Linked DNA regions of Homo sapiens: region 2 is linked to region 1. Evidence: fine-mapped expression QTL. A gene starts in region 1. The other region holds a variant in brackets. All regions are shown on one strand. Distances are between the middles of the regions. Region 1 holds the start of IKBKE (inhibitor of nuclear factor kappa B kinase subunit epsilon). Region 2 overlaps SRGAP2 (SLIT-ROBO Rho GTPase activating protein 2).

What was found. PIP is the estimated chance that this variant, and not a neighbour inherited with it, causes the effect.
Region 2: its variant is the best candidate, but not a certain one, in a credible set for the expression of IKBKE in whole blood (INTERVAL, PIP 0.74).

Annotation. Positions count from the first base shown.
Region 1 is chr1:206,468,970-206,471,879 of GRCh38, reverse strand. IKBKE (inhibitor of nuclear factor kappa B kinase subunit epsilon) reads right to left here and starts at 1,404. Exons shown (of 22, transcript NM_014002.4): 1 at 1,182-1,404; 2 at 635-724. RefSeq lists enhancers at 2,028-2,337, 1,857-2,494.
Region 2 is chr1:206,439,256-206,442,165 of GRCh38, reverse strand. It overlaps SRGAP2 (SLIT-ROBO Rho GTPase activating protein 2), which reads right to left. Exons shown (of 23, transcript NM_015326.5): 17 at 2,085-2,190. Among named protein-coding and RNA genes, the nearest start is that of IKBKE, 30 kb to the left of the region's middle. The variant C/T (reference allele first, on the strand shown) is at 1,555.

The DNA of each region.
Region 1 (2,910 bases):
ATGCCTGGAATCCTATGTTCCTTCGCTCTGAACTTTTTCTCTGTGTAATCTTTTTTAAAAATGCAAATCCTTGATAATGTCATTTCATTGAGCCAGAGGCCCCTTGAAGAGATCGGTGGTCAACTCCTAGTTTCAGATCAGGTAGGAGCGGACATTACACAGAAGCAACTGAGGTACTGAGAGGCTTCCTGAAGACAACACAGTAGCTCAGCATGAATGAGTGGGTCTGGTTTTCCCCGCTGAGGCTGGAGGCAGCCAGCAGGTCTGGGGGCTGGGGCTGGGGTTGGAGCACAGCAGGCTGAAATCAAGGCCAAGGGCTCTGATACTGGGGCAAGGAACAGCTCAGGACTCTGGGATAATAGGCAGTGAGGTGCAAAGCGCAGACCCCCAGACAAGCGGTGTGCCCCTGGATTCTGTGCCCGGGAGCTCTGGTTGTGGCACATCTGGCTTAACTCTGCACGCTCTGCAGATCCTCCCCCCACCACCCCAAGCACCTGGTGCAAAGAAGGGCTCAGTGGCCCTCAGCCAGTGGTTGGATGAATGAGCAGTGGACAGTGAAGCATGTGAGACACCACCCACCCACCTCTCCCCTCCCCTCCCTCCTCAGGGCTCTGCTGTGGCCAAGTGCACTTACCCCACACTCTGAGCTGCCCTGAGTCAGGCAAAGGCTCTTCCTGGCGAGTGTATGTTATGCTTTCTGTCTGTGGCACGTCCAGGAGCTGAGCTACACCGGAAAGAGGAGGGCGGATGAGAGGCGCCCCTCAGTGCAGTTGCTTCTCAGCCTCCATCAAAGGCCGCCGGCCCTAGCCCTTTAACCCTTTCCTGTTTGTCACCTTCCCCCACAGGGCTGGGCTGGGGGTTTCCAGCTCTATTCCCAAACTGTTCAGGGAGCCTTTCCCAGCGTCTCCTACTCCTGAGACTCCGGCCAGGGAGAAAGACCCCGGGAAAGGTGAGGGCAGGCGCTGGGTGCTGATCGCTGGCTTTGGGTGTTGGTAAGCAGAGCCCAGGGAGGGCTTGTGGTTGGCCCGTGGTGGCTCACCTCCATGCCACACACAACGCTCTATGTGAGAGCACCGCTGCCAACAAGCCCACACCCCTGCACCCGGCTGAGCTGCCCTGCAGCTGCCCCTTGTCTGGCCCCTCATTCCACCCCCACCCCCCTCCGCACGCTGCACACTCACCCCATCTCCACTGCAGGGGATGCAGGCTTGTGGGACTGGGTGACACCCCCAGAGCTTTCAGGGCTCACTGTCATTCATGAGCAGTGTTCTTAGCCTCCTGGTAGCCAAGGGCCCCTAGGACCCACAGGCAGGGCCAGTTGCAATGTCTGTGCCACCCCAGGAGCTGGGACTAGTGGGTTTCTTCCCTGCCTCCTTGTGGCGGTGGGACACCAAGCTCAGCACTGAGTCCTGGCTCTCAGCTCTCTCGCACTTCCTGATTTCCGTCTCTCGCTCTCTCTTTCTCTCTTAAAGAGACAGAGGCAACTCGGTGCAGCCACCAGCTCAGCAGAAAAGAGAAAGAGGATGCTCTGAGTTCCCAAGGGTAGGCAATAGGACCAGAGTGTGAGCCACAGAGAAGCCAGGAACTGGGGCCCTTCTGGTAATCTTGATGGGCAGCTGGGTGCTGTTTTGGCATCTCCCACAGTTCACTGGAGCAGGGAAGTTCAGGGCTCTTCCCAGAGTCAACAGAGCAGGTTGGGCAAGTTAACTAAGTGGAAAGCTGCCTGGGAAGTCCATGCTCCCACACCCAGGAACCCCAAGGAAGTGTGGGAGCTATGCCGATCCAGTCCTAGAAGTTGGATCTGAGTCACCTTCCCAGGAGGCCTGCAGAGGTCCGAGAGCAAGCGCGGGGACCCAGCTGATGCCTTCCAGTGTGACCTGAGCACACAGCATGCAGCCCCTCCCAGCCAGCTCACTCACCCGCAGAGTAACAGCTACTCTGTGGGTTGATTGGATGACATGGATATATTTGGAATTGTTTGGGAGCTTGGAAAGCATTTTACAGAAAGGCATTGAAGGCATGGAGGCCCACACACTTCAGTAATTTACCCATGCTCTTCAGAGACTGCTGGGGCTGGCACCCAGGTGCCAACTTCCCAGCCAGGACTCGATGCCCCACATCAAATGTCCTAGGAGGCTGGAGGGGTCTGTCCTGCTCTGGTCAGCTCAGAGATGGCAGTTGGATATGAAATGGTTAAAACCAGGAAATTCCATGTTTCTATAGAATGTTGGAGGGACTTTCCCATGGCCACACCTGGTGGTTTCCTCCGCCAGCCCCACCCCTCCCACAGTGACACTAGAACAGGAGCAGAGCTGAGAACTGCCTAGTGCTCAGATAAAGAGAACTCCCCATAACACCTCCAGCTGGAGGAGTTGCTGCAACTTCTCACATCAGGACCAGGAGGAATGTGCCTGAGTGCCTGAGATCCTCATGTTCCACCCAGTCTTCCCAGCTTGCTTTTTTTTTTTGAGATGGAGTCTCACTCTGTCACCCAGGCTGGAGTGCAGTGGCATGATGTTAGCTCACTGCAACCTCCACCTCCTGGGTTCAAGTGATTCTTCTGCCTCAGCCTCCCAAGTATCTGGGACTACAGGCATGCACCACCATGCCCGGCTAACTTTTTGTATTTTTAGTAGAGATGGGGTTTCACTGTGTGGTTGGTGAGGTGGATTGAACAGGTTGGACTTGATCTCCCAACCTCCTGATCCACCTGCCTCAGCCTCCCAAAGTGCCGGGATTACAGGCGTGAGCCAGTGGCTAATTTTTTGTATTTTTAGTAGAGATGGGGTTTCACTGTGTGGTTGGTGAGGTGGATTGAGCAGGTTGGTCTAGATCTCCCAACCTCCTGATCCACCTGCCTCAGTCTCCCAAAGTGCCGGGATTACAGGCGTGAGCCACTGCACCCAGCCT
Region 2 (2,910 bases), 30 kb after region 1:
TAGTGTGGGTGCCCCAGAAAAGGTCTCAAGCTGGGGCCACTAACCCAGATACCTATAAGGCCAGGTTGACCACAAACTTGGAAGCAAGCTGACACTTATGAAATGGTCTCTAAAGTTGTATTCCTTTTAAGCAGAGACTAACCTTGTAGAAGGCTCCTCATTTTCACAAAGAAATATGTGCAAAAACACCTGGGTCCCTTGGTTTACCTTTTGTTTCCCCTACTCTGATAGATTCATGGATCCAGAGAAACATTTTTGTTCTCTATGAAAACCACAAAACAAGAGTGATGATAAATAGCAACTGAATTCAGCCTCAGGATTGGGGGACAACGGGGAGGGCTGGGGACTGTGGTGAATTGGGGAGTGCCTGCCCCATCTAGGGAGTACAGCCCTTACTCCACAGGGAATTGCTGCCACCAGGGACTGCAGAGTCAGTATCACCAGATCTAATAATTTTTCAAAAGAAGCTAGAAATCTAGGTTTTTAAAAAGTGAAATTTCCCCAAATGTAAGTATGATTTCATTGTTCTCAAGACACAATAGACACCTGAAGAGAACACATCTTCGGCTTTATCTGGCTCTCAGGGTGCCCATTTATAACCTTTGGTCTAGGCTGTTGAGGGCGAAACTGCAGCAAAACCAAAGTGAAAAGACAGAGGTGCCTCAGAGGGGAAGAATCACATGTCCTTGCTTGGTGCCTTTCCTGTCATGTGGGGACTCCAAAGCTTGCTCCACACAAGGACATGCTGCTTGGACGAGAAGAAATGCCCCATCCACACCCGCGGCCCCCTCTGCTCCTCAGACCTTTGTTGTAGACACATCCGTTCCCTGGGTGATTAGCTAAATACCACCAGTACATGGGCAACTCCTGCACTGGCAGCTCCACTCCTGGTTTCTCCCTTAAGGGTTGGATTCCTAGGTCCAATTGTTCAAAATCTCCACTTGGACATCTCACAAGTGCCTCAAATGACCATGACCACATCAACACATTGTCTTGATTCCTTTCTCCACACCTTGTCTTCTCCAACTCCATAAATGACCACCCTATGTCCCTGTCGCTCATGCCAACAATTTAGGATTTCTCTCTCCATATTCTATGTATAATCCATGGGCAAATCCTGTTAATGCTATGTTCAAAATGTATCACAAACCTGACCCCTCCTCACCGCTCTCCAGACTCAGCCACTAACACCTCTGGCCAGACCAGATGGTAACCTTGGGATAGGGTCTCCCTGTTTCTCTTCATGACCCTTTCCAGTAACTTCTCCACAAAGCAGTTGGCAGTTTTTAAAAAAATAAAATACACAAATCAGATAGTAACATGCCGGGTGCGGTGGCTCACGCCTGTAATCCCAGCACTTTGGGAGGCTGAGGTGGGCACATCACGAGGTCAAGAGATGGTGACCATCTTGGCCAACGTGGTGAAACCCCATGTCTACTAAAAATACAAAAATTAGCTGGGCGTGGTGGCATGCGCCTGGGTCCCAGCTACTCAGGAGGCTGAGGCAGGAGAATCGCTTGAACCTAGGAGGCAGAGGTTGCAGTAAGCCAAGAT[C/T]GCTCCACTGTACTCCAGCCTGGAGACAGAGCAAGACTCCGTCTCAAAAAAAAAAAAAGAAAATCTTCTAATTGCTTCCCAAATCCAAATCCAAACTCGCTATTACCATGACTCTGGGGTTTTAAATGGCCCCGTGGCACTCTTTTCTCCTCCTCTGGGCTGCTGCTTGTACACTGTCTTCTCAGGCAGGCCTCTGCTGTCCACCTCAACTACAGTGCTTCTCCCTCCTTTCATTCAGACCCCTTTACTCTTTCCCCTCTCTTTACTCTTTTTTATTTTTCTTCTAAGCACTTATTCTACCTGATATATCTGTTATTGGCTGTTTCCTTCCCTGGAACAGGAGCTAAATTATATCAAGGCTTTCATCTTTTATTTAACGATGTATTAAATAAGTCTAGCACTGTGGCTAGCACACAGTAGGTGCTCAATAAATATTTTGTTGGGATGGATGAATAGGCATAGGTCCATAGAGGAACTTCCAGTGCCCAAGCCAAAGCCTGATCCAGCTGTTCACTGGGAAGGCTACTCACTGATTGAGGAAGGCAAAGAGGTATCTCATGATAATCAGAGTGGTTTTGGGCAGGACTAGGAGGACTTTCCGGATGTGCAGAGCTCTCTCCTGCAGGTTGTCCATTGCTGAAAAGAAGAAAGCCATGTGTTATCCTCCACTATGACTGGGATCCCAGGCAGTAATGATCAGAAGTCCCTACTACCAGCAGGGGCAACACGGACAGCATCAGATCAAGCCCACGCACAGCACTGGTGCAGTGACAGGAGTGTCATCCCTGTTGCTCCTTGGAGTAGGGCTGTTAGAAGAGGGCACCTGCTGGGCTCCAGACATTTACCATTGCCGGATGTAAGGTGTATACTTCTTGGGCACAGGGAACTGTGCCAAATCCAAATCCAAACTCGTTATTACACATTATTAATATTAAACTGAACTAGGGTTGTTGTAATCTCATTGTTATTAATAACAAGTTTGGATTTGGATTTGGGCACAGGAAATGGGGTTAGAAATGTTCCCCACAGGATCTACCACCCTCTTATTCAAACAACCACTGACAGGGAGCTGCCGCCAACCTGCTGTAACTGCTCAACACAAAGCCTCAAAGGGCCTACTTCTCGGTGGGAAGAGAGGCTGTGCAAGAGGCCTGTCCTGCTCACTCCACACATGCCATCTCATCCTCTGGACAAGTGTGGCTTATCTTCTCCCTCCCTTATCTGCACTATGAATGAGTAAAAAGTGGCCTGAGGCAAGAGGTAGCAGGCCCCTGGGTATGTAGTGATATTGGGAAGGAGACCTGAAAGGTTTTCTTGTGCTGTGGAGAGGTTAATTATAGGTCAATTACAGGTCCT